Linked DNA regions of Homo sapiens. The protein of the gene in region 5 interacts with the protein of the main gene of each other region in a pairwise test. Each region holds a gene or a part of one and is shown on either strand. Other genes may lie near its edges.

Region 1 (3,500 bases), on a different chromosome or scaffold from region 5:
TACAGACTACAGTAAAAGATAGTCTGTATTTATCACAACATTAGAAAATTAAAATAAATTTCTCTCAAAGAAATAAAAATATAAAAGCGTTCTCAACTTGTGAAGCAATAAAATTATTTGTGCGCCAGGCTTCTTTTAATACCACTGTGATTTTTTTAATAAAAGTCGTTCAGTTTGATTGTAATTAAATATGTAATGAAAAACCACTGCTTCAGGGAAGCGATGCAAGACACTATTTAACTGTTAGTTAAATGTATTTCCAACTGACTTTGCATCAAACGAAAATGATACTCCGTGTATGCCTGGTCTTAATATAGAATTTGTTCGGCAATTTCTGTGTTTTTTTAAAGGGGACCTAGGTAGAAGCAGGCATTGCCTTCGAAATAGTGGCTGAGTCTTCCCAGACCATGACATTCCCAAATAAAATTGATAGTATAAATACAGTGATGGAAGGGAAGGTCGACTTTGGACATTTACCTCGTGTCAGCTAATTACAGGCATAGCACAAACGTGACCAGGGCCTAGGTTTTCTTCTTGGTTGACTTGATAAGCTCAGCTGCAGTGATGAACAGTGAGGCATCATTTCAATGGCTTTAAAAAATGCCAGGCTCAGTCTGTGCCCCCACCCCCATGACCAAAACCCATTCAATGGACAGCACAATTCCCAAGGCCCTGGGAAAAGAAACAGATCAACTCAGGTATTATCCTTTGGAGAAATTCCGTCAAATGAATGAGAAATCAGCTGGGATGAAATGAAAGCATAAACGTCCGTTGGAGACTATGACAAAAGTCAAGCTGCTTCAGGGACCGACCTCCTAAAAATACTTGGGAGGTATTTCTTGGGTGTTAAGCATTCCCAAAGTGTAGCAGTAGAATGGGCAACTGGGAGATAAAGAAATGTAAAGTGGAAGAAAAAAATGTAGACTGTTTCTGAGGAATGTTTCTCCCCTCCCCAAAAGTAATCTTCAGCATCCAAACTCTTAAGCCTCAGAGAAGATTTTCATTGTCAAGAAGTTTCCCGGAGCCCCTGCTCCCTTACAGAGTTTCCACTAAACTCTCTGTCACTTGTAATCTGCTGATTAGGGTTAACGTATTGTGTCCTGATATGGCAGATTAAAAATGAAATCAATAAATGCCTAAAACAAATGGGCTTTTGAGATGTCCTATTCAGTCTGAGTCTTTAAGGGTGAGGTGAGAGGTGGAAGAAGGAAATCAAGACGGGGGTGGGAAAAGGACCACTTAAGCAATCAATTTCCGTCCAAAATGTTGTGTGGACCAAGCGATTTCAAGGAATCTATCCTTCCTTTTTCAGATATCTGCCTTAAGTAACAAGAATGGCCAAAAGAGTTTGTGCTGCTAAGACCCTTTGGACTTTATTGTGTCCATGCGTGTGTGTGTGTGTGTGTGTGTGTGTGTGTGTGTGTGTGTGTGTGTGTATTTTTCCATTCATTTGTTAAAAACATACTTTTGGGCAAGTGAAGGAATCCATCGCGTGAGATATTTAAATATTCAAGATGTGAACTTGTCTTTCTGAAGGATGTTTAAACAAAGTGAGGGAGGAAGGGTCCCAAATCTACCCGATTCCTAGTCTCTTGAAAGCTGTCCCACTTGACAGTAAATTAAAGGTAAACTTCGCCCTGAGCTGCCTGCCCCCTCCCTCCATCCTGTTGGTTGAGATTTCTGGGACCTCACCGGTTAATTCAGAGTCATCACTATCAAGAGGTGGAAAAGAGATCTCTGAGGTCATTTCTGCTCTGTTGCAGTGTTCAGAGTTGTCCCTGTTGACTATGTTTCCCATGTAAATAACCTGTGTTATTAAGGTGCAAATTGCAACTTTTAAGTAATGATTGCTAATAGTCTAATGTTTACTGCCACACAAGGACATTCATGAAAACAAAATCTGCATTATTCATCTCCATATTAAATAAACAAAATAAATTGAGGGAGCTGTTCTTTCTTGCAAGACTCTTCAGATCTGGGTGATCAGAAAGCCTTTAAGAGTCAGCAAGAGGGAAACATCTAATTGCTTTGGGTGGGCAGGGGCAGAATCCTATAACTTACATATATAAAAGATATATTCACAAGATGTGCTCACAAAAGATTGTGTGTTCTATTGCAATTGGCTGTCATTAATATAAAAGCAGTTCAGTATGGTGAAATAAAATACGTATTATTTATGTGCGCGCACAGAGGCTGAGATAGGCTGTAGAAAATCAAGAGTTAGATTCTAAGTCTACAATTTTAAATTTTTAACCACTCTGCATCCTGCAAAATGCAAACAAATCAAAACACCGTTCTGTTTTACTTTCCTGCCATTTTCTCTATCTCCCTTGAAATGCATAGAAGGGGAAAATGCTGGTACTGAATCCTGCAATATTTTCAGGTAATAGTGGATGTATTTTAATGGTGAGTGAAATATACATCCAAGGAAGCAAGCATGCACACACAACACAAACCCCTGGGGTACTGTAGGCTGCTTTCTCAACTTTTTTTTTCTTGCCCTAAGTAATAGTATGGTGGAATAGCATAGCTTAAGAAAGCCAGGAAGAATGACATTTCAGAGGGAAATACTCTGATTTAGCTGTTTCCTTAAAGAGAATTGTCCCCTCACATCCCTTCCCCCTGAAGGGGGAGGAACATAACAAATAAAGACTAAAATTCCTCATCACTTACAATATCATCTTGTTTATTCTGTTTAGATACCTGCTTTAGTAGAAAGTTCTGTAATTGATTCCTTGAAACATGGAACTTATAACTAATAATACAAAGGAATCAAATTGCCTGGAACAGTTCTTGGGAAAAAGAGCGCTCCGGGAGAGCCTCAGCTCGGATCCACTCACAGGCTTTTTCTATCTCCCATTATTCATTAATCAAGCTAGAAATCAAGCTTTCAACATCAGTCCTTGGGTGTAATTACTTACAGTTGTGCATTGTGTTTAATTTTAAGCAGTGATAAAAGTTAGTATGGCCATAATCTTAGAACCCACCTTCTCCCCTTCCCTGGATGTTAACTGACTACAGAACCCCAAAGTGGCTAACTTTACTTGTGAATAACCACTTCAGCTGAAATAGAGTAGGGCATTGATGACCTTAGATGAACAGAAGAAACACTGCATGAAAAACTGTCTCCTCTATTAATATGTGAGCAAATAAATAAGGTAAGAGGGCCCTCACTGTGTACGAAATGAATCATCCTTTTTCAGCTTAAAAAGGGTTTCCGCTTCTGGTGAAAATAATAAGAATCATACAAAACAAACATACAAAGACAGTAGGAATATAATAGGCCAGAAAACTGAAACTATAGTTACAAGTTTCTAACACACACACACACACACCCCCACACACCCACACACACCAATAAACTAGCCAGCACCAACAGACACAGCTTAATGAAAAGGACCTGATTTAAATAATGTGATACAGTGTTATGTTACGTACACCTGGATCCTTATCGATCGTAGGATAATTATAATCAAAGTCGAGCAATTCTGAGCAATGCA
Region 2 (3,500 bases), on a different chromosome or scaffold from region 5:
AAGTAGCTGGGATTACAGGTGCGTGCCTCCACACCCAGCTAATTTTTGTATTTTTAGTAGAGACGGGGTTTCACCATGTTGGCCTGGCTGGTCTCGAACTCCTGACCTCGTGATCTGCCCGCCTGGGCCTCCCAAAGTGCTGGAATTACAGGCGTGAGCCACCATGCCCAGCCATCATTTACTATTTTATACCAAGAGTTCAGTTCCTACTCCAACCCTGCCTGCATGTCATGTTGAATTCATTTCACCTGATCACTACTTTCTTTTCACACATACTGCTTTCTCCAGGAAGAGAAGGAAGAGAGAACCATAGCAAGCTATGAAGAAAAAACACGGAGGGACCCCCAGAGAGGGGAAGCTGTGGAATAGCTGGGAAGAAAACTTGTTCAGTTCTCAGTCTCACCCACCTCATCAATGTGGTTATCTTGAAGTATTCCTAACCAAAGAAGACTGCCATGTCTTATCCAAAGCCAAGCAGGTTTGGCCTGAGGCAAAATCTTTTTTTTTTTCTTGAGACGGAGTCTTGCTCTGTCGCCCAGGCTGGAGTGCAGTGGCGCAATCTCGGCTCACTGCAAGCTCTGTCTCCCAGGTTCATGCCATTCTCCTGCCTCAGCCTCCCAAGTAGCTGGAACTACAGGCGCCTGCCACCACGCCCAGCTAATTTTTTTTTTTTTTGAGACGGAGTCTCGCTCTGTCACCCCGGCTGGAGTGCAGTGGCGTGATCTCGGCTCACTGCAACCTCTGCCTCTCAGGTTCAAGTGATTCTCCTGCCTCAGCCTCCAGACTAGCTGGGACTACAGATGCATGCCACCACGCCCGGCTAATTTTTTTTGTTTTTGTTTTTTTGTTTTTTTTGAGACGGAGTTTCACTCTTGTTGCCCAGGCTGGAGTGCAATGGCGTAATCTCGGCTCACTGCAACCTCCGCCTCCCGGGTTCAAGCGATTCTCCTGCCTCAGCCTCCCTAGTAGTTGGGATTACAGGCACGTGCCACCACGCCCAGCTAGTTTTGTATTTTTAGTAGAGACGGGGTTTCTCCATGTTGGTCAGGCTGAGCTCGAACTCCTGACCTCGGGTGATCCGCCCGCCTCAGCCTCCCGAATTGCTGGGATTACAGGCATGAGCCACCGCGCCTGGTCTTTTTAGTAGAGATGGGGTTTCATCATGTTAGCCAGCATGGTCGCGATCTCCTGACCTTGTGATCCGCCCGCCTCGGCCTCCCAAAGTGCTGGGATTACAGGCGTGAGCCACCACACCCAGCCTTGTTCATTAATTTTTTTAGATACGGGGTCTTGCCGTGTCAGCCAGGCTGGAGAGCAGTGGTGTGATCATGGCTCACTGCAGCCTCAAACTCCTGGGCTCAAGCAATCTTCCCATTTCAGCTTCCGAAGTAGCTGGGACCACAGGTATGCCCCACCAGGCCCAGCTAATTTTTTTTCACTTCTTTAGAGATGGGAGTCTTGCTATGTTGCTCATGCTATTCTTGAACTCCTGGCCTCAAGGAATCCTTCTGTCTCAGTGTCCCAAGTAGCTGGGATGATTTACAGTCGTGAGCCACCGTGGCTCCTACACTTCTTTCCCAGTGAGCCCTCTCCATCCCTTAATTTATATAAACTGGTCTTCTATTAGTTCCTTCTCTTGTTTTTCTATTAAAACCTACTCTCAGGAACCAGCCTGGTAATAGTAATTTACACTTTAATCAAAACTTTTGTGCTAGGAATATCTGCAGTATAGACGATATCAGTAATATGGATTTAAAGGCTCTATACCCTGTTAAAAAGAAGTTGAGGCACTGGAGTAGGTACTTGTTATGTATAGAACATGCTTAATATCACCCTTGGGCAAATCCTAAAGAACATGTGTCTACATGCTAGGCCAGGGCTGCCTAAAGGCAGATATTGTGCCTTTGTAAGCCTAGCATAGTGCCTGGCTCATGGAAGATGCTCAAGAAATGTTTGCTAAACTGAATGTTACTGGATCAGGAAGGGTGAATGTGGGGACAGGAGGGAGAAGGAGAATCATGAGATGAGATTTCCTTACATCTCTGGAGTCTTGGACTTGTTCTTGCCGTTGAAGAACTCGGGGAGAGCCCTCCGCTCAATGGCATGAACACTGCAAGAAAAGCCAGAATGGTTTCAGAAGAAGGCATTGGTGAAGGGATGGGGGCCCCAAAGGGAGGAAAAGCCTAGAAGGCAAAGAAGGAAAAGAGCTCGAAATTGCTGAAGTTAGAAGCTTGGGGAGAACATCCCACAGGCTGTAAGACTCAAAAGGACACAAGGAGCTCCCCTAAAACTAAAGTGTACTCTGGTCTATTTGGGTGAGGAAAAAATAACTTATTTGGAGGAGGCAGGGAGAAGAACAGCCTGTTGACCCCTGGAGGCAGGGAAATAAGGACTCAGTGAGAAGTTGGGGACAACCATACCTATTGTAGTCAAACCAGGCAGCGTAGCTGGGAATGATGATGTGGTGGGTCTGTTCAGTCACATTGTCCTCATGCAGGTCTGGATTCTTGGTCTGCTCTCCCTTGTTCCCCGTACTGTTCTCATCCTCATCCTACGAGTATGGAGGCTGCTGGACACTCAGCATTCCTGCTTCCTCCCTAGCAACCCTCTGCTTCTCCCACACCCCAGGAATGTGGACACTAAAGATGGGTGATGGGACTGAGCAGTCATGGGCCCCAGGACTCTGAAAGGGTCAGAGTTTTGAACAAAGCTGGAATTAGTCTACAGTGGGTAAAGTCTGGGCAGTGAAAAGTTTGGGCAGAATGAACTTTATAATCACAAATCAGAATCACATAGAGAGGTAGGGCCTCTCTAAACTGGCTCCACCTTGCCCGTCGTCTCCATGCTTTCATCTTCCTGTTCATCTGAAAGAGAAAAACCAAGATGTAAGGCTGGAGCCTCCTGAGGGGCAAGAAAGCCCTACCAAAAGCCCATCAGGCTAGCGAAAAGGGGGCAGCTGAGCCCTCCCCTTCCCTTGGCTCTGACTGCCGTGCCCAAGAGGCTCCTGTCTTACCCAGGTCGGTCATGGTGCCGCCTTTGACTGGGGCCGACTCTGAGTCTTTCTTTGTGTTGACTGCGAAAACAGAGAGTCATTTTATCAGACAGATTTTGCCTAATTCAAGCCTTCAATTTAATAGTTCCAGACATCCTACTTTCTCCAAAAATTGTCTCCACCTGATTGCAAAATATAGTAATTCTCTCCAGTCACAATTATTCTAGGGCTTCAAACTTCTTGCTACTTTCCCCACTTCTCCAACCAAAAATTAATTTAACTTATTTCTCTATGTACATTCATAAATGATTCTTGTCTTTGACAGGCCTTTATCTCCATCTATGTATCTGTAAGCTTTTAATGGTCTGATACTGAATCTGACCAAATCACTCTGTGGAAGAATGGTTAAGTGTTAAACATTTTTGAAAGCAGAGGATACTTTCCTCAACTGAATTCATATACATATGCTCAGGAGCAAACATAGAGAAGAGAGAGAGCTGATTGATGA
Region 3 (4,017 bases), on a different chromosome or scaffold from region 5:
CTCTACAAAAATACAAAAATTACCCGGGCATGGTGTCAGGCTCCTGTAATCCCAGCTACTTGGGAGACTGAGGCAAGTGGAGGTTGCAGTGAGCCGAGATCTCACCACTTTGCCACTGCACTCCAGCCTGGGCGACAGAATGAGACCCTCTCTCTAACAATAAAAATGTAATAATAAAATAAAATAGAAAAGCAAGCAAGCAGGGGAGAAATAGGGCCAACATGGTCAGTGCTGTGAAAGGTCACCAAGTGAAACTGAGAGTGGCCTCCCACTGGAATGCCAGCTCCAGGGCTGGGAATTCCTGCCTGCTTAGTTCACAATACACAGCAAAATGCCTCCTCTGCTGCAATAAATTATTTTAAATGATGAATGAGTAAATGAAACCAGACCTCTAAAAAGGGTGATGTAGGGGAGAGGGAGAAATTGAGCCACACCCTATACCCTTACCCACAGACCCTTCCTCTGGGAGTCTAGACCCCCAGTCCTGCCTCCCTCTGGACCCAGTAATATTCTCCCTGCCCCCACCCCATCTCCATCCCCACTCCTACCCCTACCCCCATGGGCAGGACCCAGGAGACAAAGCCTCCAGCACCCCCTTAGACACAGACCCAGAAATCCAGGCCCCAGCCAGGCACCATGGCTCAAGCCTGTAATCCCAGCACTTTGGGAGGCCAAGGCAGGCGGGTCACCTGAGGCCAGGAGTTCGAGACCAGCCTGGCCAACACGGTGAAACCCCATCTCTCCTAAAAATACAAAAATTAGCCAGGCATGGTGTCCAGCACCTGTAGTGTCAGCTACTCGGGAGGCTGAGGCAGGAGAATCGCTTTAATTCAGGAGGCGGAGTTTGCAGAGATCGCACCATTGCACTCCAGCCTGGGCGACAGAGACTCCTTCTCAAAAACAACAACAAAAAAAAAAAAAAAAAAAAAAGAAAAGAAAAAAAAGAAAAAGAAAAGAAAAGAAATCCAGGCCCCCCGGTTTCTCCCTCCTCTTGGAGCCCGGTGCCCTAGGCTCCTTCAGAGCAAAGATCTGGACCCCAGCTCCCTCCTTCCCGGGGGGACTGAGTAGTCCGCCTCCCAAGTCCGCCGCGCCCATTCAGGGACTGCGTTCGCCGGAGCGCGACCCGGGGACTCCCAGGCCTGTGGGCGGGCCCTGCCCAGGACTGGGCGGTGCCATAACCCCTAGTTTAAAAACTCGCGGGTACCGGACCCAAGATCGGGGACCCGGCGGCGGCTCCGCGGGGGAAACAGCGAGGCTGGCGCAGCGCCGAGGCCGCGGCCCTGGGGGCCCGCAATCCACGCCACGGAATCCCCGAGGTAATGGGCGCGGGCAGGACGCGTTCGGCCCCCTAAGAGAGTGAGGGACTGAGGATCGAAAGACTCCCGAGGCCCTGAGGGACGGAGCTGAAGCGTCAGTCCTTTATCCCGAGAGTGAGGGCCCTAGGTGTTTGGAGGAGGAGGGGATCGTGGATCGTGACAGAGGGGCGGCTGGGATCCCAGACTTCTGGGTCCTGGGGGTGCAGGGGCCTGGGGATCCAGGATCGCAGGGCCCCGAGGGTGCAAGGGCTGGGAGGCTTGGGAGGCTGGATCTCTGGGTCCTTGGAGGTGCTAGGGGTTGCTGGCAACCGAGACTCCTACCCCTAGAAGCAGGGACTAGGCTGAGTGCGGGGGGGGGGGGGGGGGGCGTGGTTGCTTAAAATCGGCGTGGGTCTCGGTGGGGAAGGGTCCGGAGCCTGGCCTCAGGGTCTACGCTGGCGGTGACCCTGCCTCTGCCCCGCCCTGGGATTTCCGGATGGCCACCCGTGCGGGGCTGAGCAGGAATTCCCCTTGCGCGGGGATTCCACGAGCGCCACGATCGGCCGCGCGCCCCGCCTCGGAGCAGGACACCTGGGGCACAGGACTTGGGGGGAAGGGGAGGATGGAAGATTCCCTTGCGTGAGCGCCGTGGCGTCAGCGCGCCGCGTCGGGGCTGTTTCCGAGCCACCTCCTCCCGCCCCCGCCCCGCGCAATCCCCACTTAACCCTTCCTCCGCCGGAACCCAGGCTCGGAAGGGTGAGGGTTCTGTCTTTCTGAGTCGTGGGAAGGAGTTTGGGAACTGGGGCTCCCAGGTCCTAGAGAGGAAGGAACTGAGGGTCCAGATTCCTGGGGCCTGAAAAAGAGACTGTATGGATGGGCCTTTTTTTTTTTTTTTTTTTTTTTTTAATGGAGTCTCTCTCTGTCGCCCAGGCTGGAGTGCAGTAGCGCGATCTCCGCTTACTGCAACCTCAACCTCCGCCTCCCGGGTTCAAGTGTTTCCCCTGCCTCACCTGGGATATACAGCCGCCTGCCACCACGCCCGGCTAATTTTTATATTTTTAGTAGAGACGGGGTTTCACCATGTTGGCCACCTGACCTCAGGTGATCCGCCCCCCTTGGCCTCTCAAAGTGTTGGGATTACAGGCGTGAGCCACCGCTCCCGGCCCGGGGTGAGGCCTTTGACTTCTCGAGGAGGGGCGCTGGGGACTCCTGATTTCCGGGTCAGGTTCTAGGGAAAAAAATGTTGGGAACCTGGATGTGAGTCTAGGGAGTGACGCCTGGCGCCGGCCCCCCACCAACCCGCTGACTTCAAAACTTGGATATCTGGGGGTGGAATTTTTTTACGGAAGTGGGGTGGTTGCTGCAGAGGGGTGCCCTCCTCCCCCTTCCTCACTTTCCGCGACGGTGGTGGAAAGTTGGGTCAGAGGGAAAGTGCGGAGCAAAAGGAAGGAAACGGCGGAGGCGGATGCCCCACCCCAAATCTTCTAATGGCTTTGGAGGAGTCAGGCGGCATCTATGTGCCAGTTTTTCCGCGCGGGAGGGCGAGGAGGGTGCCCAAACCCACTCCCCGCGCGCCACCCCCGCGGCATTTAGGTGACTTAAGGACCCTTGATGACTTCCCCCTCTCCTCTCCCGCACAGTGAGCAGGGGTGAGCGCAGCCACTGCCCAACGCAAACCGTGAAGAAGCTTCTGGAAGAGCAGAGGCGCCGCCAGCAGCAGCAGCCCGACGCTGGCGGGGTGCAGGTGAGGCCAGGGAGCCACAGCTCTCCGGAGGCCCCGTGCTGTCCCGTAGGGACTCAGCGGCTTGCCGGGCCCTCGGGGCTGATGAGAGGGGTGGTCCTGACCGAAATGTCTTATAGATCCGAGACAGACCCGGAGGAATCTGCCAGATAAAGTCACCTGGGTTCCTTTTTGCTTTTGTCTCTACAGGGACAATTTCTCCCTCCCCCAGAGCAGCCCCTGACCCCATCTGTGAATGAGGCTGTGACTGGTAAGTTCTCTCAGCTCCCGGCCTCCCCATCCCCCTTCCCTAAGGGACTCAGACATCGCAGCTCTCAGAACTTTGGGACACCTGGGAGTCAGGCCCTCATTCTTCCCTTTTTTTTTTTTTTCTGAGACAGGATCTCACTCTGTTGCCCTGGCACTGGAGTGCAGTGGCGCTATCTGGCTCACTGCAGCCTCAACCTTCTGGGCTCAAGTGATCCTCCCGCCTCAGCCTCCCAAGTAGCTGGGACCACAGGCGATGCCACCTTGCTTGGCTAATTTTTTAAATTTTTGTAGAAACGGGGTCTGGCTATGTTGCCTAGGCTGGTAGGCCCTCATTCTTGCTGGAACTCAGTAGCAGTCTGATTTCCTAGGTTCTCTTGAGTCCAGTAGTCTATGCACATAGTCCTACGGAGCCCCAGGGCCCAGGCTCAGCCTTTTTAGTGCCCCAGGAGTCCAGGCCCTCAATTCCTCAGTGTCCCAGGAATCCAGGTCCCGGGAGCTTGGTGTCCCAGAAGTACTAACTCTCAGTACCTTGGGAGACGCCAGGCCCTCTAGCCCTGGATGTGACGTCCCCAACTCTGGTAACCAGACCTGCCCCTGCCCCTCCTCTTACACGCAGGCCACCCTCCCTTCCCAGCACACTCGGAGACTGTGGGTTCTGGACCTAGCAGCCTGGGCTTTCCAGACTGGGACCCCAACACGCATGCTGCCTACACTGACAGCCCCTACTCTTGC
Region 4 (3,500 bases), on a different chromosome or scaffold from region 5:
TAGTGTCCATGCACACTTCTCATTTCCAAGGTCAGAGCTCTATGATGTCTGCAAATAACGAATACAAGGCTATTGTCAGTCCTTATAAATAAGAAAATATTATTTGTCCCTAATTCTGTAGTTTTCACTCTCAAATGCGGGGTTTTTTTTTTTTTTTTTTTTTTTTGCATTAACAGTAACCCCAAGAAAGGCATCAGGGTTCTGGAGTGGTTGTTTGAGTGACACAGCACAAGGCCTTGATTTCATCATGCTTTTGCTGTGGATGTAGTGTAGCTTGCTGAACAGGTATGGAAGCTGTCTTTGCTGTTAAGTACTTCTCCCGTTTGTTTATCAACCTGCAGCTAACAGGATGTCTGCTTTTTTACAGGTTTATTTCACAGAGCAGTGTACATTCTTGTCTTCCAGGGGAACTTCAACATGGAGTTACTTTTGATCCCTCAGTTTTAATTCAGTGTCTAAAGGTTTACAAGTTCAACTTACTCTATTTTATTCAGCTCTTTCACTTACTCTGCCATCACTTCCTACTTGAATCTGAGTTTTAGCTACTGTAGAGGTCTCAGACCTTTCCTTTTTAGTACTATTAGCCAGGTAAAACTTTGGTTCTTGTGAGTGGTAGGGATGAGTTTTTAGGACAGTATTCAAAGCCTTTTTAAAGGAACCAACTACTCAAATGCTCTACAATGCCAAAAATACAATACTCCTGCAGGTTTTCCCAAGCAAGGCCAAAACAATCAAAATCTGACAGAAAAACACAGCTGTTCAGCTCTGGAATCTGATGATAGGCTACTTTTTAATGTCAGGACATCCTTCTAAACTTCCACTTACAGTGTCACATGTAAGCATGAAGGCTGGCTCGTTGGTGAGCCATTGCTTTGTTTTTAGGAAGACAGTTATGAATGCCATGGACAATCTCAGTACATGTTGTTTGTTATGATTTTATTCACGCTAAAGGAATGGGTATTAAAATTAAGTGCATATAATATAGAATTCAGTTTCAAGTCTGAAGTTAGCGTAAATTTAGATTCTTCAGACTAACATAAAACATGATTTTGAGAAGTTAAATAGGAAGATGCCTTTTTTAGAAGTTTAGCATATTTAGTTTATCTCCCAAATCTTGCTTAGAAATCAAATGTATATAAGAGAAGTTAGTTACAGAGCTAGATTGATTAACTACTTCTTTAATGAAGATTTGCTATGAATTTGTTTACTCTTTCATACCACCTTCAGATAGCTAGTCAGTTCAGCAGGAGCAGAGACCAGGTTAGCACGCGGATGGGGTGTAATTCAGTGTTTTTGTGTTGTACAGCCTGAGAAATGCCAGTGGCCTGACAGCAGCAGACATTGCACAAACCCAGGGTTTCCAAGAGTGTGCCCAGTTTCTCTTGAACCTCCAGAATTGTCATCTGAACCATTTCTATAACAATGGCATCTTAAATGGGGGTCATCAGAATGTATTTCCTAATCATATTAGTGTGGGAACAAATCGAAAGAGATGCTTGGAAGACTCAGAAGACTTTGGAGTAAAGAAAGCTAGAACTGAAGGTGAGACCGCTTTGCGGGTGGGAAGAGCACACTTATTTTTCCTTTCTGTAATATGTTTTCTTTTTATGGCTGAGCGCACCTTCGAGATGAGACCTTCACTTCAGGTGGTAATGCGCCTGGTGGATTGTGCGGTGACGGTGGAGATTTCTCCTGTACTGCCACTGCGAAGATGGGACTTAACAAAAGGGAATGTGAGGGAAATACTGATGGCCCAAGTGTAAATGTCTATGTGGAACTTTTTGAGCACCCATGTTTACCTGCCATGAATTAGATTTTTTAATTTGTTGTATCTGTTTGAAATATATCTATTAAAGAAAATCTGCCACTGTGCCTGAATTTTTTTTTTTTTTTAATTTGCTTCTTGTAAATGTTCCTGGGCTTATAAAAATTGCTGATGGTCTGGCAGTAAAACATTTTCACATTCGGGAAGGTGAATGTTTTCTGTACTATTTCTGTACTATGATTTGACCTCAGTGGTCTCTGTACCTCACATGTGTGTTGACTTATCACAGCAAGATCTGGTGTATAATTTGATCTTGAGGATTTAAGTCCCTAAGGTAAGTTATTTTCGTTGTAAGTATTCTCCCACCATTTTTTTTTTTTTTTTTTTTGCTCTGTCACCCAGGCTGGAGTGCAATGCTGTGATCTCGGCTCACTGCAACCTCCGGCTCCCAAGTTAAAGCAATTCTCCTGTCTCAGCCTCCCAAGTAGCTGGGATTACAGGTGCATGCTATCACACTGGGCTAATTTGTATTTTTAGTAGAGAAGGGGCTTCACCATGTTGGCCAGGCTGGTCTTGAACTCCTGGCCTCCAGTAAGCCACCTGCCTCGGCCTCCCAAAGTGCTGGGATTACAGGCATGAGCCACTGTGCCTAGCCGTTTTTTGGGTTTTTTGTTTTTTGTTTTTAAGGTAGGTTTGAGTTTGCAAATAAGCAGTCAGCCAGTCACTCTTGAAGTTGAAAACATCTCCCTTTCCTATAGGAAAATCATCTATATCTATATATAAGATGTCTTAGGCCAGTTGTCATGGCTCATACCTGTAATCCCAGCACTTTGGGAGGCTGAGGCAGGAGGATTACTTGAGCTCAGGAGTTCGAGACCAGCCTGGGCAACATAGTGAGACCTTGTCTCTATTTAAAAAAAAAAAAAAAAAAAAGTCTTAATAAGAAGGTAAATGTGATAGCTTGGCAGGCATATTTAGTGAACTTAGGGGGAGAGGTGGGAGTGTGAAGTAATGAAGCAGATTATGAGCTCAGATTTGCTGAGTATAAGCACAAAGTTTTGCCCGTTGGTTTAAAAAAATCAACCGTGCAAGTTACAGCATAAGGAAAACTGAGTGACTATCAGTTAATCACTTAAAAATCTAGAGATTTTGGTTAAATTTCATGAACCAACATCATCTTTTCTACCTTATTTAATGAGTGTGTCCAAGTGAAACATTTTTTCCCTATAAAGTTGATAAAATGTCAGTATTATGTACTTCACAACTATATCTTGTCACCATAAAAATTCCTGTGATAAGACTTTTTATAGTAATGTATGAACTTAACAGTTTTATCAAATTCAAGATTTTTATGAGTTAAGCATTTCTGGAAAGATGCTAAAATCATAAGCATGACATGAAGATCTGCATAAAATTCAAAATGGTCTTTTTTAATGGTGATGTATTCAGCATTGTCATTTATTTGTACCATGTTTTAATATATTTTTTCTAATGTAGTTTCAACGCCTTTTTAAGAGCATCCACTTTTTAAAAAAATCCTTTGTCATTTCCTTTAATTAAAGCCTGGTTAGTATTGTAGAGTGGCCTCATGCCCTCATGCACGAATTGTACATGTCTGTCCCTGTATGTCACTGTATAGTCTAAATGTCCTTGAAAAATGATTTATGCTTCATTTTCTCTTATTGCTGATAAATCTTAAATTCTGTTTAGTATTTTTAAAAAGAGATCACTTAAC
Region 5 (3,500 bases):
CAGGCTCCCGCAGCCTCAGCTCCTGGCCCGGTCCCACCTGTTCCTCCTCAGTCAGCGGCTCCAGAGCCAGGGGCTGCAGTGGCTCGTCCTGCAGCACCGCGGCGAACTCCTTGTCCTGCAGCTCTTCCGGGACCTGGCAGTGGGTTGGGACAGCCAAGACACCACATGCTGCCAGATCCCCTCCACAGGCAGAGGCCACCACCGCCAACCCCCCTCGCCCACGCACCCACCTTGTTCTCCTTGACGTAGAGAGCCAGCATTTCCTCTCGCCCATAACGGTAGTCAGCCAGCTTGTATTTGGGCATGGCAGGGGACGGGGGTGGGGAGGCCACGCTGCCGCCCCCGGACAGGGCCCTGAGCCTGGACACAACACAGAGAGAAGAAGACAGAGGTCAGGGCAGCCTGACTGTGCTTTCTCGAATCTCCACGGCAGCCGAGGCACAAGTGACTCACCACTCAGGCCCAAAGTTGAGTGTCTCTGCTGCCATCGTGGGGCTGGGCGTGTTTGAGAGGCCGGGGGTGGGGAGGAGGGGACCTGGCGTTCACTGTCCAAACACCTGTGGGGGAACAGGGGCCATGAAGAACAGCACACGAAGGAGAACTTTAAAGCGCAGGGAGGACACCATGGGGGACATCCTAGTGGGCACAACAATGGGCCCCGGACTAGCTGGTGGGTCACCTGGGGTCTAAAAGGACTCACCTGAGCCAGCCACGTGGCCACTCACACCATGAGTTACCCAGAGATGAGTCCAGACGGTGAAAGACCTGGGGGAGGCGAGGAGATGGGAAGCTCGAGTCCTTTCGGCCTCAGCAGGGCAACCACCCTTGGCCCGGGGCTCACCTGGCAGCCTGGCCCGGGAAGAAGGAGGGCAGGGGCTGGTGCTGGAGTGAACGAGGGTACCCAAGCCACTGGGAATTGGTCTGACCTCAGTAGAGCCTGGGAGGGACCTTCACATCTGGGAAAGACCCTTAAGGAGAGCAGGGGGGAGGAGGGAGGGTTCAGGACATGGCTCTGCCGGCAGCCCTGCCCTGCCCCGCATGACAGGAGAGGTCCATTCGCCGGATGGTGTCTCTGGGCATCAGCACCCTCGCCACCCTCTCTGGGAGGCTGAGACAGGAGGTGTAGTGAAGAACTCGGGGAGGGAGGCAGCCGAGGCCAGGATGGACGTTCAGGGCAAAGATAAAACAAAAACAAGCAAGCAAACAAAAACCCACTAGAGCCACAAATAGCTTACAGAGAAAAGGTCAGTTACGGAGAAAAGGATTAGAAATAAATCTAGGAGCAAAATTCTTTCCCTCATGAAAAAAATCAGTTGGCTGCTCAGAAGCTCAAATCCAGGGGCTTGGTCTGGGGAGAAACCCAGTGAAAAGGAGCAGGAGGTGACTCTAGGGCCACAGACGGGTACACGACAAGGACTCCAGGCAGGCAAGCCTGAGCCAAGGCACCTCGGGCTGGTTTCCCCCACAGGAATCACACCCAGACCACCGCCCCCAATCAATAATGGAGGCTTAAACAACCAAGCCACCAAGGGAACGAGGATCTCAGGATACCAGCTGGGAAGCAGCCTCTGGCACCATCAGGTGGAAATAAGGTCAGGGCAATGGAGGCTGATGGGGGCGCGGCGGCAGCCTGTTCCTCTAAGGGAGGATGGAGGGGACTTTCAGGAGGAGGCGCATCCCTGGGGCCCCAGGCAGAGGACTCAAGCGGGTGGGCGGGGTCCAGGTGCTGCGGTGTTGTCACTGGCTGGGAGGGAGGCTGGCCCGGCTTGGTGCTGCAGCTCCCATCAACTCCAGGACGCCACAGTCTGGGAAAGAAGAGGAAGCGGGTTCAACCAGGGTGCTGAGGAGGAAAGGCCATCAGCCCCAGCTGAGCCAGCAGCCCATGACAAGCCGAGGCCTGCTCAGAGTCCAGGCACTCCAGGGGGAAACACCGGGCTCAGAGGCAACCCAAGGCCAGGCTGGCCTCCCCTGGGACCTCTCCTTCCTCTGCCTCGGCTGGATGCTCCAGTGGTGGTGTGTTCCATGACATGAAAAGCCACCAGCCTGTCACTGACTGCAGGTGGCCACCTAGAGCAATCTGGGGACTGGATGAGCCTTGAGGACATCACGCTAAGAGAAACACACCAGCCAAAAAAGGAGAGCTACCCCTTACTTCTCTTTCATGAGGTCTCTAGAGCAGTCACTCATTGAGGGAGGAAGGTAGAAGGGCAGCCACCAGGGGCTGAGGGGACAGGGAGCTGTTGCTGAAGGGTCCAGAGCCTCAACTGAGGAGGGGATCCTGGGGCCGCTGGTGGTCATGGCCGCACACCAATGTGAGTGTACTTAGTAACACAGAATGGCACAATTAGAGACAGTTAAAGTCTCCAAATTTTGTTGTATATTTTACCACAATAATCATTTTTTTAAAAAAGCTTTAGGGAACAAAAGGTATCTGGAGATAACCACCGCATACCTAAGTTTTCCCCACTCCAAGAAAAACACCCCACATTCCTTCAAATCAGCCTCAGGAGAGGCCATTTTGGGCCTCCTCCAGTTCATTCCTTCTAGAAGGCCAGAAGCTCATCCTGGAGGCATGAGGGTGGGAGAGAGTAGAACAGAAAAGGGACCACCTGGCCAGCACAATGGCTTATGCCTATAATCCCAGCACTGTGGGAGGCTTGAAGAGAGGAGTCCGAGACCAGCCTGAGTAACAGAACAAGACCACGACTCTACAGAAACAATTCTAAACATTTTTTAAAAAAGAAAAAGTGGCCAGGCGTGGTGGTTCATGCCTGTAATCCCAGCACTTTGGGAGGCCAAGGCAGCCAGATCACCTGAGGTCAGGAGTTTGAGACCAGCCTGGCCAACGTGGCAAAACCCTGTCTCTACTAAAAATACAAAAATTAGCCAGTCCTGGTGGTAGGTGCCTCTAATCCCAGCTACTCGGGAGGCTGAGGCAGGAGAATCGCTTGAACCCAGGAGGCGGAGGTTGCAGTGAGCTGAGATTGCGCCCCTGCACTCCAGCCTGGGCAACAGAGCAAGACTCTGTCTCAAAAAAAAAAAAAAAAAAAAATTTAAAGCGATGGCCTCACACTGCCCCCTGCCAGGCGCAGCAAGGGCAGCTCTCCTAGGTGCCTCCGGCTCAAGTCACCCATCCTGGCTGTGTCTTGGCTGCAAGGGGCACACAAAGGGGGAATGGTTCATGCAGACTGAGGACAGCGACACCAAGACAGGGGAGAGAGCAGGCCCAGAGCAGGAAAAAGCCCATGCCACCCGCCTTCTTGGGAAGAAACCAGGAGAGTGAGGTTAACTCTCTAGGCACCCCCACAGCAGGGTCTGGTGCCGGAAGCTGATGGTGCCTGGCCCCTTCCTTGGACTAAAGGAACTAGTGGCACACCTGCAGGCCACCATGGGGCTCCCACCCTCCAACAGGTTCTGGACTGGGGGCACCTCTGCTCCTCAGGGGGCTCTTGGCCAAGTCTAGAGACATTCTGGGTTGTCACCACTGGGCAGGGGGTGCA
Region 6 (4,253 bases), on a different chromosome or scaffold from region 5:
TGAAAACGGAATCAGAGGTGGACCCCAAACCCTCAGGCCTCACCACCAACCCCATCTCCCCCAGTAGGATCCCTTGCCTCATCATGAGGTACCTCTTCTCCCAGAGCCCAGCTTTGTCCCTGGAAGGAGCTCCCAGAAGCACCGACTATCAGCCCCTCAAGGGCACTCACCAGAGCCTGTAGCCTCTGGGGGCACAATGTCCGGCCTCGAGGTCCTGGTCCCTCCAGCCTAGAGAAGCAGGAAGCCCTGGCAGGGTCCAGTCGGTGGGTGGGGGTTCTGGGGGCCAAATATGCAGAGGCCCGAACACCCTGGGACACCAACAGAGGCTGTCAGCACTGCTCAGGATGCCCCCCTCAGTGCCCCCTAGCCTGGTCTCCTCACATCCTGTTTCATTACCTGGACCCTCTGGGTGGTGCCTCCCTGACTTCCTCGAACCAGTACTCTTTTAGCCAGACTAGGCTGGCGCCCCAGGTGACAGCTCTTCACACCCTCACCTGACAGGATGGTGGCCAGGGCTGCAGGGTCAGCCACAAACTCTATGGTCCCTGGAGCCTCTGCAAGGAAAGAGGAGAAGGAAAAGGAAGGGGGAAGGCTGAGGGGGATAGGGCCCCTAGCATAGGAACTTTGAGGTACAAGGTGAGCAAGAGACTCATTCAATTGAATTTGGCTTATTTTTTTTTTTTTTTTTAAGAAATAGATGGCTGGGTGCAGTGGCTCATGCCTGTAATCCCAGCACTTTGGGAGGCCGAGGCGGGTGGATCACCTGTGGTCAGGAGTTTGAGACCAACCCGGCCAACATAGCAAAACCCTGTCTCCACTAAAAAAATACAAAAATTGGCTGGGTGCGGTAGCTCACTCCTGTAATCCCAGCACTTTGGGAGGCTGAGGCAGGTGGATCACCTGAGGTCAGGAGTTTGAGACCAGCCTGGCCAACATGGTAAAACCCCATCTCTACAAAAAACAAAAACAAAAAAAAATTAGCTGGACCTGGTGGCGCGCGCCTGTAGTACCAGCTACTCAGGAGGCTGAGGCTGGAGAATCACTTGAACCTGGGAGGTGGAGGTTGCAATGAGCCAAGATCGTGCCACTGCACTCCAGCTTAGTGACAGAGTGAGACTCTGTCTCAAAAAAAAAAAAAAAAAAAAGAAAGAAAACAAAAATTAGCTGGGTGTGGTGGCAGGTGCTGGTAATCCCAGGTACTCGGGGTGAGGCATGAGAATCGCTTGAACCTGGGAGGTGGATGTTGCAGTGAGCCGAGATCATGCCACTGTACTCTAGCCTGAGGGATAGAGTAAGACTCTGTCTCCACAAAAAAAAAAGAAAAGAAAAAAAAAAAGAGAAAAAGAGATGGGGTCTCACTATGTTGCCTAGGCTGGTCTCAAACTCCTGAGCTCAAATGATCCTCCTGCCTCGGAGGAGTGTTGGAATTACAGGCGTGAGCCACCACACCTGGTCACCAAATGTTCATAGAATGTTACATAAGACACTATTCTAAGCACTGGGGTCCCATAAGAATAAGACAAAGCCCCTATCCTCAAGAGGCTATCATCAAACTATAGACAGGTAACAGACTCAAGCCAAGGTATATACATGTTATAAAAGAAGTGCTGCAAAGTATTAGGAGAACACAGAGCAACTGATTGTGACATGGGGAACTGGAAAAGGCTTCAGAAGAAGTGATATTTATTATTTATTTATTTATTTATTTTTTAAAGAGATGGGATCTCCCTCTGTCATCCAGGCTGGTCTCCAACTCCTGGCCTCCAGTGATCCTCCTGCTTCAGCCTCCTGAGTAGCTGTGATTACAGGTACAAGCCATGGCACCTGGCGAGATGACATTTTGCTGGAGGAAAGGGAGATCTTCTAAGAGCAAAGAGCTTTCCAGGAGCTGGGACCAGGACTATCACAGTAAGTAGGAGACAGCAGGAGTGAGTGCAAAACCCCAAAACCCCACTTTTACCCTTCCTAGTCCCCTACTCAGCCATGGAGGCCGTGTTACCATGGCTCCAACAGGTACCTGTCTGGGCAGGGGGCCCAGGCCCCACATTTTGACCCCTAGGGCTAGGCCTGAGCTCTTCCAAGGGGTTCCGAGGCTGACTGATCCCCACCAATCTTTGTGATGTCTCTGCCTGGTGCCTGGCTTTCGGCCTGGGGCCTGCTGAATCAACGAGGGGGCGTTGAATATTGAGCGGTGGTTTCTGCACCCATCTCTAGGGGAGGGAGCGGGGACAAAAAGGTGAGGTTTAGTGTTGGGGTGCATTACTGGTGTGACTACTGTCTTCCCCCATTAGGCCCCTCTTACCCTTGGATCTTGGTTCTCCTGGTCCACGGCGCACGATGTAACAGTGGGGAAAGGCGTGCGTTTCTGAGAGCGTACCGGAATCTTGCTAGGGGTAGGAGATACACCCCGGAGGAGGGGATCCTTCGTGGCTTGCCGGGTGGTCATGATGGCTACAATTGAGACGGGGAAGAAGGCAGGCAGAATCTAAGATCAAAGATCAACCAGTTCTCGGGGCACCTGTCCTGCCATCCCTGATACCTCCGCCCTAATCCACGCGCCCACAAGCCCCCGGCGCCTGCAAGACCGCTCTTATGGGTGCTATCTCCAGACACCCCGAGCCTACTCTTTCGCCCTCGGGCCCCAAACTGCCCTCCTCCCTATGAACCCAGCAGCCTTCGTTCCCTTCAAGACCCCCGTGCCTTACCTTACCGAGGCCCCTCAGGGCCTACCCAGCTTCCTCCGCTTTTCTCCTGACCCTCTCGGGTGCTGCTGGAGCTACTTTCTCAGTTTGTAAAATACGCCAAGCTCTTGATTGGCCCGGTCGCGCTCCCGCGGAGGCCCGCGTAGCCAGACTCAGCCGTCCAATCCGCGGGCATCGCAGGAGGGGCCAAAAGAAGGACCAATTGTCGAACCGCTTTCTGGCGAGGAAAAAAACTGACTCGGATCAATCAGCCAATCCGAGAGTGGAGCGCCGCTGGGAGGCGGGGAAAGAGGAAGGATGGGGCCGTTCCGAGGCCGGGGAAGGCGTAGCCACGGGAGCTCTCGCGAGGCCTCAGGACCGGCTAGGGGCCGGCCATTGGCAGGACCGGGCGAGGTCGCGGTACTGAGGGTACAGTTGATCGTTCCGATTGCTGCCAACGGTGTTGAAGGCTGGCCCGAGCCCCCGACCCGGCTTGACCATAGCACGGCGCCAAGCTTTGGGGACGCCATTCCAGATGCCCATAGAAAATATCTGCGTCCGGGCGCGGTGGCAGGCGCCTGTAATCCCAACACTTTGGGACGCCGAGGCGGGAGGATCTCTTGAGCTGAGTTTGAGACCAGCCTGGGCAACATAGCGAGACCACTCCCACCCGTTTCTCTACAAAATAATAAAATAATAATAATAATCCCTGTGCAGTGGTGCGCGCTTGTAGTCCCAGCCGCTCTGGAGGCTGAGGCAGGAGGATCGTGTTGAGCCCAGGAGGTTGAGGCTGTAGTGAGCTGTGGTCGCGCCACTGCACTCCAGCCTGGGCAACAGAGACCCTGTCTTAAAAAAAATAAAGAGGGAAAGAGAGAACATCTGTACGTTGTCTCCGGGATAAGGAACTGCCTTCAAACGGGCGGAGAGGGCTGGAGGGAATCGAACTGAGCCTAACAATATGTGTGCTCCTTGGAGCCTCACAATCCAGTGAGGTGTCTGATGAGGTGTCTTTCATTTTACGGGTAGGTAACAAGACTCATTGTTTTTGAACTCAGTTACCACAGCACCAGAATTGAATGGCTACTCACAGCTGGGGATTTCCTTGCCTCCAGGTTGCCTTTTGCAGATCTAGAGGTCTGGGGAGAGGGGGCTCACCTGCTGGTTATTGGTGGGCAAGGCTGTGAGACTGAGAGATCCTAGAATATCCTGCTTAAGATGGAAGGGGTAACCCCTAACGGGGGACAGGAAATGAACAACACTTAACAGAACTCTGGTGGATTTTCCCCACCAATCACAGAAGTTATTCTTACACAAGCCAGAAACCGAGGAGTTACTCCTTAACTCCTCCCACTCCCTTTACATATCCCATCTCTCATTCACTCTCACTAGTTTTACTATTTATGCATTTTTGGGACAGGGTCTCACTCTGTCGCCCAGGCTGGAGTGCAGTGGTGCGATCTCAGCTCACCGCAGCCTCGGCCTCCTGAGGTGGGAACCTCAGCCTCTCAAGTAGCTGGGACTACAGGTGCCTGCCACCAGCTAATTTTTGTGTTTTTTTGTAGAGACAAGATC
Region 7 (3,500 bases), on a different chromosome or scaffold from region 5:
AAAGAGGAGAAAAATATATTTCAGATTTAATGAGTCAATTCATGTGCTAAGTTTTCTGGCAGTCTGAGTATTTAATTTAATGGCATCTCTGTATTACTAAGCACATTATATAATAACCAATGCTCAAATGACAAAAGGAGTCATCATGAATAGGCTAAATTACATTTAGAAAGCTTTATCCAAAAATAGGGAAAACTAACAATTTTCAGAAATATTTCACCAAAGATGTTAGGACCAGCACTCAAAAAAAGTAAATTCTAGTAACAAAAAAATTAATAATTTTCTAGGAATGCCAGATAAAGTGAATGTCTAAACATACAGAAATGACTAGTGCAGACTGAAATGTATGAGTATGAAAATCTGCCCAATCCCCCTGCAATTACAATGTACTAGGGTCCTAACATTCATTTAACATTACCTTTTGTCAGATGAAGTTAGAAACTCATCAGTTGAGAATACATAAGGTGGACTACAAATATGAAGCTATAAACTTTCCATCTTAAAGAATGGGTATAAATATCCCTAAGTGCATTTGTCACACATATTAAAAAACACAACCAGAGGAATACAAAATAATTACACAATTAAAATTTTTAGCCCAATATGTCACTTAGAATGCCGTAAAATCATACTTGGAGAACTTAGGAAATGTTTTATCTTCATATGTAACTCTAGATTACCTGAACAAACTGTTAGCATACAACAGAGCTACAAAAATAAAAACACCTGTGGTCATGCACAAGAATTAAGAGAATTAAATGAGACAGCAAAGGCAATTTGGATAGCATCTGGCACACAACTATTTCTCTTTTTCCATTAATTAACTGCAGATTTTCCAAAATTAGTGGACTAGGAAAAAATTGGGAGGTTGGCCCTAGGGTAAGCCTCTGTGAATAGTGAATTCAGAAATGACTTCTGAACACTTTGTCTAATTTTCAGAAAGAATAAACAATTCTTCCTAATGAACCAACAATAACAAAAAGAAAGACTTTTAAACCTATCTTTTTTTTGAGACAGTCTCTCGCTCGGTTGCCAGGCTAGAGTGCAGTAGCGTGATCTCGGCTCACTGCAACCTCCACCTCCTGGGTTCAAGTGATTCTCCTGCCTCAGCCTCCTGAGTAGCTGGGATTACAGGCGTGCGCCACCACACCTGGCTAATTTCTGTATTTTTAGTGGAGACGGGGTTTCACCATGTTGGCCAGGCTGGTCTGAAACTCCTGACCTCGAGTGATCCACCCACCTCAGCCTCCCAAAGTACTGAGATTACAGGCATCAGCCACCATGCCCGGCCAAATTTTAAAGCTATGTAAACACTGAAAGGGAGAAAAAGTTTAAGAATACAAGGAAAATGAATTAGATAATCAAAAGTTAAAACCTTTATATATCACATACACTCTTCAGGTCTAATTTTTGAGGTAGGCTTGCCTGAATTACTAAAGGTTTTTTCAGAAGCTTGGAGAATTACTGTACATAAAGAGTACACTAGAATGAAAAAATTATTAAAAGGGTATATTTAGCATTTCTGTAACGTCCAATGATAGAAAAAAGGAAATGAATAAATGTCTATATTTACTGTTGCATTACATTACTTTTGAAATGTCTATTCTAGTAAAGAAAATACAGATATCAAAACCAAGTAAGCTAGAGTGCATATCCCATAAAAATGTAAAAAAAAAAAAAAAATCACTTATGAAACTGGCACCACATCTACAAAGAAAAGATTTATTTCAGGTAACCCTGATACACAATAATTTGATTATACATTATTTATTAAACTTTTATGTTCAGGGGTACATGTGCAGGTTTGTCATATAGGTAAACTTGTGTTTGTTATATAGGTTACTCATGTAACAAACAAATATTTATAGATACCTGCACATGTACCCCTAGTTATGATTATACACCTTTGGGATAAAAAAAAAGTGGCAGAAAAATCTTAGTGTCATCTGGTAGCCTTGTTGGCAGTAACACTACTTTCAAACTACTATGTGTATGTCTATATTGTATGAAAATGAAAAGCAATCACGTTACTGTTTTCAGTATATGAGAACACAAGCAAATATAAAAATCAAAGTAGCTAATTTCTTTAATAATACTTCATATTCATTTTTTTCTGTTCAAAATGCACATTTTCTAGTTTTGTCCACTAAAAATTCCTAGACTCGACGAAAACCCAAGAGCAAAATGAGAATCTAGTACCCAGACTGAGTTCTCTAGATACCATACCCCAACTGGAAAAATGGCTGATTCTCAGATTGGAGGGAGGAAAACACAAGATTTGTCTGGGATATACTGGGCCAAAAAGCTAAGTAGCTCTCAAAACTAATGTGACAGGGAGGCAACACAGGTCTCCCACCGTCCAAAGATGAAACAATCTACACTTCAAAAAAAGAAAAATGCAACTGACTAGAAGTAAAAATCCATTAATCCATAAATACTAAAGAAACTGAAGGAGAAAAAAAAAAGGGAGAGAGGGACAAGGGAGGAGAAGATGAAGAGAAATGAGAAATCTCTCTTTGGTCACTGGGTATCACTGGAAATACCTATAGATCTCATGACTCTGAGAAATGGCAATTAAAGAAAAAAATAGCATCTACCCTGACTTTGCTGTACCAACCACACTTCAAGGTAACTAAGTACCATTACCTGATTAAGGAAAACTTTTTCTTCATTTAAGTTAAGAAACATGGAAGGAATTATACATTTAGAAAGATCACCACTCTGCAACTAATAAAAAGTAGATCTAAGAAACAATGATCAATGGATGAAAGGAAATGTTTTTAATGACCAGGTTCTACTGTTCCACTAAATGTTCTGATCAATCTTAACATCATTAAAAGGGGAACAAAACACCAAGAGTGAATCAAAATGCAAACTAAGGACTTTGGGTGATAATGATTTGTCAATATAGGCTGGCTAATTGTAATATACGTACCACTCTGGTGGAGGATGTTGATAATGAGAGCCTGTGCAAGTGTGGTGGGTGGGGGCTTATGGGAATCCTCTGTACTTTTGGCTCCATTTTGCTGTGAACCTAAAAAACTGCTCTAAAAAATAAAGTTTTACACCGCCCCCCCCCCCGCCCCGCCCCAAAAAAGGTGTGGGGCAGGAGGACAAAAAGGCACTGCAAGACTTCTGATGTGATAGATAATACCAATCCTACAGCATTTTGCTTCTCAAGTATTCTTGCTAAAACAGGTGAACCGGAATCTAAGCAAGCCTTTGGTGCTAACTTCCATTTTACAGGAAATGCAAAGACAGTAATTTCAGTACCACAAAGAAGCAAAAAACCAAATCCATTATTTAAGCTCTTATATACAGAATGAACTGTTTCTTCAACAAGTCATGAAGCATTAAGAAAAGGAAGGGAGGACTGGGGCAGGACTGCACTAACATTAAGACATTTAATACACATAGCAAAACAAAAAACACACAAATAGGATGAGAGGACCTTCTCTGAATTTTGACTAAAATAAAACCAATCATAAGAGTTTAAGACA

The links.
Region 1: the proteins of GIGYF1 (region 5) and TSHZ2 interact in binary tests that used the Homo sapiens proteins (3 or more experiments, as listed by UniProt).
Region 2: the proteins of GIGYF1 (region 5) and SMARCC2 interact in binary tests that used the Homo sapiens proteins (3 or more experiments, as listed by UniProt).
Region 3: the proteins of GIGYF1 (region 5) and NFKBID interact in binary tests that used the Homo sapiens proteins (3 or more experiments, as listed by UniProt).
Region 4: the proteins of GIGYF1 (region 5) and ANKRD10 interact in binary tests that used the Homo sapiens proteins (3 or more experiments, as listed by UniProt).
Region 6: the proteins of GIGYF1 (region 5) and TROAP interact in binary tests that used the Homo sapiens proteins (3 or more experiments, as listed by UniProt).
Region 7: the proteins of GIGYF1 (region 5) and SCAF8 interact in binary tests that used the Homo sapiens proteins (3 or more experiments, as listed by UniProt).

Annotation. Positions count from the first base shown.
Region 1 is NC_000020.11:52,975,358-52,978,857, reverse strand, and holds part of TSHZ2 (teashirt homolog 2), read right to left. Parts: intron 1-3,500. UniProt on the Homo sapiens protein: Probable transcriptional regulator involved in developmental processes. May act as a transcriptional repressor.
Region 2 is NC_000012.12:56,175,984-56,179,483, forward strand, and holds part of SMARCC2 (SWI/SNF complex subunit SMARCC2), read right to left. Parts: intron 3,074-3,500; coding exon 3,014-3,073; intron 2,865-3,013; coding exon 2,827-2,864; intron 2,552-2,826; coding exon 2,421-2,551; intron 2,111-2,420; coding exon 2,039-2,110; intron 1-2,038. UniProt on the Homo sapiens protein: Involved in transcriptional activation and repression of select genes by chromatin remodeling (alteration of DNA-nucleosome topology).
Region 3 is NC_000019.10:35,897,741-35,901,757, reverse strand, and holds the start of NFKBID (NF-kappa-B inhibitor delta), read left to right. Parts: upstream 1-1,217; 5' UTR 1,218-1,255; coding exon 1,256-1,316; intron 1,317-2,014; exon of another isoform or gene 2,015-2,051; intron 2,052-2,935; coding exon 2,936-3,039; intron 3,040-3,225; coding exon 3,226-3,286; intron 3,287-3,901; coding exon 3,902-4,017. UniProt on the Homo sapiens protein: Regulates the expression of IL-2, IL-6, and other cytokines through regulation on NF-kappa-B activity. Functions in the regulation of inflammatory responses.
Region 4 is NC_000013.11:110,891,070-110,894,569, reverse strand, and holds part of ANKRD10 (ankyrin repeat domain-containing protein 10), read left to right. Parts: intron 1-176; coding exon of another isoform or gene 177-222; exon of another isoform or gene 223-367; coding exon of another isoform or gene 368-461; exon of another isoform or gene 462-1,306; coding exon 1,307-1,542; exon of another isoform or gene 1,543-1,878; intron 1,879-3,500.
Region 5 is NC_000007.14:100,687,751-100,691,250, forward strand, and holds part of GIGYF1 (GRB10-interacting GYF protein 1), read right to left. Parts: intron 1,806-3,500; 5' UTR 842-1,805; intron 766-841; 5' UTR 701-765; intron 558-700; 5' UTR 489-557; coding exon 454-488; intron 361-453; coding exon 231-360; intron 134-230; coding exon 38-133; intron 1-37. UniProt on the Homo sapiens protein: May act cooperatively with GRB10 to regulate tyrosine kinase receptor signaling. May increase IGF1 receptor phosphorylation under IGF1 stimulation as well as phosphorylation of IRS1 and SHC1.
Region 6 is NC_000012.12:49,321,802-49,326,054, reverse strand, and holds the start of TROAP (tastin), read right to left. Parts: upstream 2,801-4,253; 5' UTR 2,706-2,800; intron 2,452-2,705; 5' UTR 2,447-2,451; coding exon 2,303-2,446; intron 2,211-2,302; coding exon 2,018-2,210; intron 1,909-2,017; exon of another isoform or gene 1,901-1,908; coding exon of another isoform or gene 1,781-1,900; exon of another isoform or gene 1,667-1,780; intron 1,564-1,666; exon of another isoform or gene 1,479-1,563; intron 555-1,478; coding exon 397-554; intron 309-396; coding exon 171-308; intron 1-170. UniProt on the Homo sapiens protein: Could be involved with bystin and trophinin in a cell adhesion molecule complex that mediates an initial attachment of the blastocyst to uterine epithelial cells at the time of the embryo implantation.
Region 7 is NC_000006.12:154,827,416-154,830,915, reverse strand, and holds part of SCAF8 (SR-related and CTD-associated factor 8), read right to left. Parts: intron 1-3,500. UniProt on the Homo sapiens protein: Anti-terminator protein required to prevent early mRNA termination during transcription. Together with SCAF4, acts by suppressing the use of early, alternative poly(A) sites, thereby preventing the accumulation of non-functional truncated proteins.